Homo sapiens: one gene and its partners. The protein of the gene in region 1 interacts with the protein of each later gene in a pairwise test. Each region holds a gene or a part of one and is shown in the gene's direction. Other genes may lie near its edges.

The links.
Region 2: the proteins of SLC29A2 (region 1) and SERINC2 interact in a two-hybrid assay, tested with the Homo sapiens proteins (one large-scale study listed by BioGRID).
Region 3: the proteins of SLC29A2 (region 1) and ALOX5AP interact in a two-hybrid assay, tested with the Homo sapiens proteins (one large-scale study listed by BioGRID).

Annotation. Positions count from the first base shown.
Region 1 is NC_000011.10:66,361,956-66,365,479, reverse strand, and holds the end of SLC29A2 (equilibrative nucleoside transporter 2), read left to right. Parts: intron 1-1,055; coding exon 1,056-1,255; exon of another isoform or gene 1,256-1,932; coding exon 1,933-2,044; 3' UTR 2,045-2,959; downstream 2,960-3,524. UniProt on the Homo sapiens protein: Bidirectional uniporter involved in the facilitative transport of nucleosides and nucleobases, and contributes to maintaining their cellular homeostasis. Functions as a Na(+)-independent, passive transporter.
Region 2 is NC_000001.11:31,430,158-31,432,794, forward strand, and holds part of SERINC2 (serine incorporator 2), read left to right. Parts: intron 1-2,637. UniProt on the Homo sapiens protein: Non-ATP-dependent, non-specific lipid transporter for phosphatidylserine, phosphatidylcholine, and phosphatidylethanolamine. Functions as a scramblase that flips lipids in both directions across the membrane.
Region 3 is NC_000013.11:30,748,934-30,752,587, forward strand, and holds part of ALOX5AP (arachidonate 5-lipoxygenase-activating protein), read left to right. Parts: intron 1-3,118; coding exon 3,119-3,189; intron 3,190-3,654. UniProt on the Homo sapiens protein: Required for leukotriene biosynthesis by ALOX5 (5-lipoxygenase). Anchors ALOX5 to the membrane. Binds arachidonic acid, and could play an essential role in the transfer of arachidonic acid to ALOX5.

The DNA of each region.
Region 1 (3,524 bases):
AGGGGGTCTGTGGAACCACCAGTGGGTGCTCTGAGGAACCGAGTACGTAAACTGTAGATGCGGTGGAGAGCACAAGCTGGAGCCTGGGAGAGGCAGAGGTGAGCCCCAGGCCAGTCCCTGATTTCTGGGTGGACTTGGCCCAGGCCCCAGTGCTGGGTCCTCCCTCACTGGCTCACAAGGTAGGTCAGGTCAGAGGAGGTCAGGGGGTGACAGATGGGTCTATCCTATGGGTGGGCCAGGCGTGGTGGCTCACACCTATAATCCTAGCACTCTGGGGCTGGACGCGGTGGCTCACACCTGTAATCCCAGCACTCTGGGAGGCCGAGGCGGGTGGATCACGAGGTCAGGAGTTCGAGACCAGCCTGGCCAACATGGTGAAACCCCGTCTCTACTAAAAAGATAACAATTAGCAGGTGTGGTGGTGCACACCTGTAATCCCAGGGAGGCAGAGGCTGCAGTGAGCCGAGATCGCACCACTGCTCTCCAGCCTGGGAGACAGAGCGAGACTCTGTCTCAAAAACAAACAAACAAAAAAACCCCTAAAATCCGAGCACTTTGGGAGGCCAAGGCAAGAGGATCGCTTGAGCTCAGGAGTTCAAAACCAGCCTGGGCAACACAGTGAGACTTTGTCTGTACACACACACACACACAAATTTTTAATGAAAAAAATAGAGGCCGGGTATGGTGGCTCACGCCTGTAATCCCAGCACTTTGGGAGGCTGAGGCAGGTGGAACACTCGAGGTCAGAAGTTCGAGACCAGCCTGGCCAACATGATGAAACCTGGCTCTACTAAAAATATAAAAATTATCTGGGCATGGTGGTGGCAGGCGCCTATAGTCCCAGCTACTCAGGAGGCTGAAGCAGGAGGATTTCTTGAACCCAGGAGGTGGAGGTTGCAGTGAGCTGAGATCAGGGCCACTGCACTCCAGCCTGGGCAACAGAGCGAGACTCCATCTAAAAAAAAAAAAAAAAAAAGTACTCTATGGGTGTCCTGAGATGCCCTGGAGCAGAGACCTGGCTCCAGGGACCATGCTGACTTCAGCTTCTACCACAGCCAGACGAGGACAGCCGGCTGCTGCCCCTGCTGGTCTGCCTGCGGTTCCTGTTCGTGCCCCTCTTCATGCTGTGCCACGTGCCCCAGAGGTCCCGGCTGCCCATCCTCTTCCCACAGGATGCCTACTTCATCACCTTCATGCTGCTCTTTGCCGTTTCTAATGGCTACCTGGTGTCCCTCACCATGTGCCTGGCGCCCAGGTCCGGGGCAATGGGGTGGGGTGGGGGGCTGGGAGTAGGGAGGTGGGTTCAGTCTTTGGGAAGGGACCGCCTGCAATGGAGGGACGGCCCATCCTGCTTCTGGCCAGCCCAACCCTAGCTGTCTGCAGGCCTTGCTGGCGCCCCCTACTGGGCCAAGCCTTAACTGCAGGGGAGAGAACTGGGCTAGGGAGGTACCCGCCCAACCAAGTAGCCCAGGCACTGGTTCTGGGGCCGCCTCAATGTGCCTCAGTTTCCCCATCTGTAAAAAAAAATGGGTTGAACTGTCATCCCTCAGGGCCCATCTAACTGTAAAATTCTCAGTTGAAGGAGAGCTAAGGTTTTGACCAAAAACAAGGTCATGGGCTATTTCCTCAAGGGGCAATGGAGTGGAGAATCCAGAGAGAATGAAGCTGGCAGGGCAGACAGGCTGAGAGCACTGTGGAAAGGGCAGGCTGTGGAATCTGGAATCCCATCATGTTAGACTCAGAGGCCCTGAGAGACATCCTTATCCAGCAGCCTCATTTACAGACCAGGAAACTGAGGCCCGGAAAGAAGGGGCCAGTTATGGTGACAGAGGGGTTGGGTCAGAGCCCAGACTGGATGGGCAGAGGGCAGTGGAGCTGGGTCCAGATTTAGACCCAGCATTTTCTAAGAGCTCCTGTTCCCGGGTGTTCTAGGCAGGTGCTGCCACACGAGAGGGAGGTGGCCGGCGCCCTCATGACCTTCTTCCTGGCCCTGGGACTTTCCTGTGGAGCCTCCCTCTCCTTCCTCTTCAAGGCGCTGCTCTGAAGTGGCCCCTCCAGGCTCTTTGGCAGCCTCTTCTCGACGTCTCCTTCCGGAGCTGAGATCCAGCCCAGGGCGAATGGCGAGCTTGGCTCAGGCCTCTGCGGGGTGGAGGCCCCTGGGCCTGAGGCTGCCAGCAGCGGGCAGGAGCTGCTCTTCATCCACTTGGAGTGCTGTGGGGAAGAAATCACCACCGGTCATTCTAACCCTCACCCAGGAATGGGGGTGACTCGCACAAGACCTCATGGAAAGGGTGATGACTAGGGAAAAGAGGGTGCAGGGCACGGCTGCTCCCCACCACCAGGTCTGCATTTGTTCATCATCATCAGGAGCAGAGGTGACCAGAGGGTTCAGAGTGGGAGGCGGGGCCAGCCCAGGCCAGGAGCGCCTCATCTTCCCAGGCCTCAGCCACCCAGGGTAAAAGGTGCCAGGGAAGTTGTGGGCACCTGAGAGGAGGAACAGATGTGGAGGACCTGAGGGTGCTCAAAGGGCCAGGCTCAGCCTCAAGCAGTGTTTTCATTGCCAACACTTACTGTACCCACTCCGCAGAGCCCAGCTGGGCCTGGGCCCCAGGGCCACAGCTAGCCTGCATGTGTGTACTGCACTTTACAGTTTGCAAAGCTCTTCCATACCCACTCTCTCACCGAAGCCTAATTGAGGCTCTTGGAAGGAGTCAGGCAAGGATTGTGCTTCCCCCATTATACAGGTGACAAAACTGAGTCCTGGGGAAAGTGACTGGTCCGTGGTAGAGCCGGGACCCAATCCCCTCTCTCTCCTCCCTGTTGGTGCTGTTCTTCCTGCCCAACACCTGTTTCTCTTTTCCTCAAGGGGTTTGGGGCAGGAGCCTGGGCACTTACTCCCCGTTTTTGCTGTTTCTCCTTCTGACCCTGCTCTTGGGTCTAATAACCCCATTTATTTGTATGATGCGTTCACCAAGTCTTTATTTCCGAAGTGCTGTTGGCTCTATTGGCCTCAGTGAACTGGGTGGGGTCGGAAAGATTGTACCCCCTTGACAGGTGGGATGACTGAGGCCCTGAGAGGGGTAGGGATTGGTGGGCATCTCTGTGCTGGGTCCTCTGGACCACATGATAGCTGGGGGGTACTGACCTGCAAGGAATCCTGAGCTCCTGGGCAGAGCACCTAGTTGGATGGACAACTATTGCTCTCCCACTCCATGAGCCCCTGGGCTCTCACCAGCATCCTCTGCCTCCCCAGGATAGCTCCTCCTTGGAAATCTGGCCTTAGAGAGGCAGTCAGTGTGGGCAGGGCTTTGGCGACCCCACCAATTCTACACACGGATGGAGGAAAGGCCTGCTTCACCACACACCTATACTACCCTGCCCGTCCCAGAGAAAAGCAAGGGTTTTCTGCCCACCTGCCTTTGTGAACATTCACTGAGCACCTATTAGATATTAGGTGCTCAGCCAGCACAGGGTACCTGCTCAGAAGCCAGGGGCTTTTTGGCATCAAGGAGGAAGACAGGCAA
Region 2 (2,637 bases), on another chromosome or scaffold:
AAAAATAGTACCTTCCTCATTGGATTGTTGAAGGGCTATAGATGAATCAGTATGTGTAAAACACTTAGAAAGGGGCCAGGCATGGTGGCTCACACCTGTAACCCCCAGCACTTTGGGAGGCCGAGGTGGGAGGATCTCTTGGGCCCAGGAGATTGAGACCAGCCTGGGCAACATAGTAAGACGCTGTCTCTTTTTAAAAATTAACAAAACAAAACAAAAACACTTAGAAAGGAACTTGGCAAGTAGTAAGTTATTTGTAATCCAAACACTTTGCCAGACTGAAGCAGGAGGATTGCTTGGGCCCAGGAGTTCAAGGCCAGCCTGGGCAACATGGTGTCTCTAAAAAAAAAAAAGGTTTTGTAATTAGTCAGGCATGGTGGTATGCACCTTCTAGTCCCAGTGACTGAGGAGGCCGAGGTAGGAGGATCACTTGAGCCTGGGAGTTTGCCAAATTAAGTGTTGCATATTATTGTGAACATTTGCATAATATTGTGAACATTTGTATATTAGTATGAGCATAATATTGTGAACATTTGCACAACTAGGTAGCTGTAGGTGGTGGCTGTTCTTACAAGTCACTAGATCATAAGATTAGGTTTAATTATTGTTTACACGGATCAGGCAGACCCTGAGTTTGCCTCCCTGTGGCCCTGCATTTCTCCAAGCACCACTTTCCATCTGCCCTTAACTCTAGAGGGAATCTTGGCTCTGCTCCCCTGATCTCCCCGATCCATCCATCCCAGTTCCAACAGCACCCCTGCCCCCAGGCCCCTGGGCTAGAACATTTTAAAGCTCTTTCACATTTTCTTCTGTTTTGGCCTTTTTCAAAACATTTTCTCCAAGTCAGTTCTGTACAGTTCATAAACATCTGTCTTCTTTGTCACATTTGATTCCTTTTCAAGCTGGAAAGGCTTGAATTACCTCTGTGTCCTCTCCTCTCCCCTCCCCTCCCTTCCCCTCCCCCCTCCTCTCTCTTTTCTTTTTTGAGACAGGGTCTTCCTCTGTCACCCAGGCTGGAGTGCAATGACACAATCACAGCTCACTGTAGCCTCAAACTCCTGGGCTCAAGTGATCCTCCCACCTCAGCCTCCTGAGTCACTGAGACTACAGGTGCATACCACCATGCCTGGCTACTTAAAAAAACATTTTTTTTTTTTTTGTAGAGACACTATGTTGCCCAGGATGGCCTTGAACTCCTGGCCCAAGCAATCCTCCTACCTCAGCCTGCCAAAGTGTTTGGATTACAGGAGTGCACCACTCCTGGCCTGATTACCTTCATTTTACAGATAGGGAAACTGACAGCCGGGGAGGAGGCCATGAGCACATGGTGGCCGGTGGCCAAGGAGCTTGGAACTCTTTCCCTGCCCCTGGTTCTCTGTCCCTTCCCCTCCCCGACCTGGCACAGCTGTTTTTCCTGCTGCTTCCACACCCACAGCTCCCTGGCACATGCACTGCTGAGAGCCCAGGGGCACAGGTCTGTTCTTAGCATGGTTCTTACAGCACAGGCAGCAAAGAAGCATATGCAACCCATGAGGGCCAGGACCACCCAATCTGGGCTCCCATGCATGAGATATCCATATGGTATTTGGTAGATAGGGTGGAGAGGGTGGAGAGGGTGAATAGGGTGGATAGGGTGGATAGGGTGGACAGGGTGGACAGGGTGGATAGGGTGGATAGGGTGGATAGGGTGGATAGGGTGGATAGGGTGGATAGGGTGGACAGGGTGGACAGGGTGGATAGGGTGGATAGGGTGGATAGGGTGGTTAGGGTGGATAGGGTGGTTAGGGTGGTTAGGGTGGTTAGGGTGGATAGGGTGGATAGGGTGGATAGGGTGGATAGGGTGGATAGGGTGGATAGGGTGGACAGGGTGGACAGGGTGGACAGGGTGGACAGGGTGGACAGGGTGGACAGGGTGGACAGGGTGGTTAGGGTGGACAGGGTGGACAGGGTGGATAGGGTGGTTAGGGTGGATAGGGTGGACAGGGTGGACAGGGTGGACAGGGTGGATAGGGTGGATAGGGTGGATAGGGTGGTTAGAGTGGAGAGAGTGGACAGGGTGGAGAGGGTGGATAGGGACCCACTGACTCACAGCAAGGGGTGATTTCTCAATTTGCTGGGGTGGCGGGGCTGGAATCCAGCTCTCCTTTTCACTTTTGTTTGGAAACGTGAGTTGGTTTTTCAAAAATTTTTATGTCTCAAACTATCAAATTCTGTTAAAAACATCAAGGCTCATCACAGAAAAGCATGACATACAATCATTACTGTTGTTCTTTTTTTAGTGTAAGCATGAAGGAAAGGGAGGCCATTGGTAAAACCACCTGACACTAATAAAATGGAAACTTAAAATCAATGGCAAATGAGCGTGATTAATTATTAACATTCTTAATGGATGTAGTACCTGGTATGGTACTTTGTAGTATTAGGTACTCGATACGTGTTTATGGAAATGGCAAAGGAACAATCCTAACAATAGTGACTGTTGATTGAATTTATATTCTGTGCCAAGCACTATGCTAGAGACCTTACATCATTATTCCGTCTAGTCCCCCCAGCAGCCCTCTAGAGGAGGTACGATTATCCCTTATTTTACAGACAAGGAATCAGAGGCTCAGAGAGGTTAAGTGTTTTGCTCAAGGT
Region 3 (3,654 bases), on another chromosome or scaffold:
CCACTTGAATTCAGCCCAGCAGCAACCCCCTCTCCAGGAGGGGCACATAAGCTTGCAGCTTTGGGTAGAAGCTGCACTTGAAGTCCTGGATGGCGAGAGGGACTGGCTTGAGCCAGAGCCAGGAACAAGGCTCTGAGAATATTCTGGAAATCCACAGGAGGAACCCATTTTCTTACAGCTGGGAGAATTTCATTCAACTCCAGGCTGACCATGTTTTATTAGGAACGAAGGTGACTTGAACTAATAGTCAGGAATGGTTGAATACGGACCCAATGTCAAATCACTAGGCAGTTCACATTTCTAATGAGCAAATCCCTTAGACAATTAAGAATTTTTTTCCTTTTGCATAACCCAGACAAAATCGCTACTTAAAAACAAACCAAAGACCCGAAACATGAGAAAGAGAAGGAAGCAGGGGAAATCTTTGGTACTAATAAGTTTTTAAACAATAAGAGCACCAGATATTTTACCCCATCAGACACAGAATGTTATTCGAATAACCAAAAAAGGAATTTTTTCTCTAAGTTTCTTGAACTGGAAAATGAATCATATTTTCTCAGTCCTGAGGCTGCAATTTTGTGCCTCTAGTAACATATAAGAATAGATGTGATGCCAGTGCCCAGTAGCTGCTGCAATTGTTACTTGGGGACCTGTTTATTCACTAAGCACTTCACCCCAGTGATAAATTTGTAGGGGCCTCCTGCCCTTTGGAGCTCCTACCGTGTCCATTAGATCAGTGGAAATTCTGGGATTCAGAGCACTTTGCAAGGTCAGCAGGGGTCTGCTCTTTCTGTCCTGTTCCTGGTTTTTGGTTGTGCCTGGATTCCAGGGTAGGTTTCTCATCTGTTACCTTCATAGACTTCTCCAGAAAAGGATCTTTTGACCATCAGAGGACCACGAAGATTCCATTGGTGAGGCGCAGATAACCTGATCTCTCTGGGTTCTCTGCAGGGCACAGATGAAGGGCTGGCCATTCCCAAGTTCTCAGTGGTACCACTGAGGCATGAGACCCTAATGGTTTGCATGAGCAGTTTGAAAATTGCATCTTTGTTTTTACCTATATAATCACATGAAACCCGTGGTTCTCAAACGTCAGCAGGCATCAGCATCACATGGAGGGCTTGTTAAAACAGATTTCTGGGCCCCAACACAGAGTTTTAAATTCTGAAGGCCTGAGGTGGGTGTGAACATTTGCATTTCTAACATGTTCTCGATGCTGCTGCCGCCTCTGGTCCCGAGAGCATGCCTGGAGAACTGCCACCTTCGACCATGGACTGTGAGAATTCACATGGACCTCAGAATTATAATCAGTCTCTCAGTTTTACAGATAAGGAAACTAAATCCAGAGAGATTGTTTTGCCAATGGTGAACAGCTGGTTAAAGTCAGGATGGAGACTTTAATCCTAGTCAAGTGACCTTTCCTCTGTATTTATTTCCCTCCCTTTTTATGCCTCTCAAGTCTAGTTACACTGTTTTTCATGGATGGGCATATTTATTGTCCTGATCTGGACTGCAGACTTCTCAGGAGGACACCTATGATTTAATTTAGTATAGTTGAAGAGTTAACAGACATGGCTTTGGAGACAGACTGATTATGGTGTGAATCCCGGCTTTGCCACTCCCTAGCTGGATGACCCTGAGCAAGTTATTCAGCTTCTCCAAGCCTGAGTTCCTTATTGGAAACATGAGAGCAATTGTGATAGGCAGAATAATGGCCCCCTCACCAATCATGCCCACATCCTAATCCTAGGAACCTGTGAATATGTTATGTTACATGGCAAGGGGAAATTCAGGCAGCTAGCCAGTTGGCCTTAAAATAAAGAGATTATCCTGGATGATCTGGGTAGGACCTGATGTAACCACAAGGGTCTTTTTAATGTGGAAGAAGGAGGCATAAGAGTAGATGTCAGAGTCATTCAAAATAAGAAAGATTTGATGGGCCATCCCTGACTTTCAGGTTGGAAGGAGGTTCTGAGTCAAGGAATACAGGTGACCTCTAGAAGCTGGAGAAGGCAAGGAAATGGTTTCTCCCCTAGAAGTTCCAGAAGGATTGCAGCCCTGCTAATATCTTGACTTTATAGCCCTTTGAGATTTATTTTGGATTTCTGACATCCTGAACCATAGTAAAAGGGTGTTTTTTGTTTTTTTGAGACAGAGTCTTGCTCTGTTGCCTGGGCTGGAGTGCAGTGGTGTGATCTTGGCTCGCTGCAACCTCCGCCTCCCAGGTTCAAGTGATTCTCCTGCCTCAGCCTCCTGAGTAGCTGGGATTACAGGTGCTTGCCACCACACCTGGCTATTTTTTGTGTTTTTAGTAGAGACAGGGTTTCACCATGTTGGCCAGGCTGGTCTTGAACTCCTGACCTTGTGATCTGCCTGCCTCAGCCTCCCAAATTGCTGGGATTACAAGGCGTGTTGTTTTAAGCCACTCAGTTTGTGGCCACTTGTTACAGCAGCAAGAGGAAACTCATACAGTTATCATGTGAACTCACAGGAATATGGTGAGTTAAAAAGAGAGGAAGGGTGCAAAACATCCACGGTAGAGTGAGAACTCTCCAGGGAGTGAGGACTGTGCCCAGCATACAGTGATCACCCTCTTAGTAAGCTAAGTTTCTGAGCACCAGCTTTTTTGAGTTGACTTTGTTGTCTTTAACATTTGAAGATCACCCTTCTTTGCTCAGCCTGGCTTGCAGACCTGGGCTGATTTGTGGATCTGATAGAAAAGTTTCCTTAGTTGGGCTCTTCTCCCCGACCACCCCCATGCCAGTGTGGCCACATCCTCTGTCTGCATTGCTCACTCTTCAATTCCAAGAAGCGCAGGGGCACCGCCAGGAACAGGAACCCTGCCAGAGGAATACATCAAGAAACCAAGTCTCCCTTACGCATCACCGTAGGAACAGAGTTAATGGATTATGAACATGTGTTTGCTTTATACCATTGTTTGTTTCCCAGGTGGCAGCTGGCTGCCCCATCTTATTGGGTAGATGTAAGTGGAATTACGAATGGGATTTATGTTTCATGCACGATGGTGATTATTAACTTCAACTTTCAGGTAATTTTCAGACCACATTGCACTAACTTGGTCTCTGATTGTTTTTCTCCTTGTTTGTTTATTCTGCAGCCAGAACTGTGTAGATGCGTACCCCACTTTCCTCGCTGTGCTCTGGTCTGCGGGGCTACTTTGCAGCCAAGGTAACTCAGACTTCCCTTTGTTCATTCTCCTTCTATAAAGTGCATCTCAAGGAGGTTCAAAGGGCAGGCTTTTTGTTGAAAGGACTTTGCCTGACCTCTGGCTCCCATCTGTGAAGCCCTGGAGAGGTGAGAGCCCTCGGGAGGCCGTGTTTCAGGCATGCTCTGCACCCGTGCAGAGCGCGTGTGATAATGCATTGCTAATGCTTGCTCCCTGGTGGCTGGCTGAGAGCTGCTGTGCTGACAAGGGTGGTTTAAGGCTAAATGTGACTCAGAATCCTTAAGCAGTGTTAGTTCAGATACAAGGGCATTATAAATGAGAGTGCCTGAGGGATCTATTTTGGGACCGCTGTCACTTGGCTCTTCTGCTAATAAGCTTCCAGTGTGGTGGCCCTCCTTCAGGCATGTTTCCACTGAGCCACGGGCTGGATGCCACATCCCCGGCCTTCCCACAGTTATCAGCAGCCC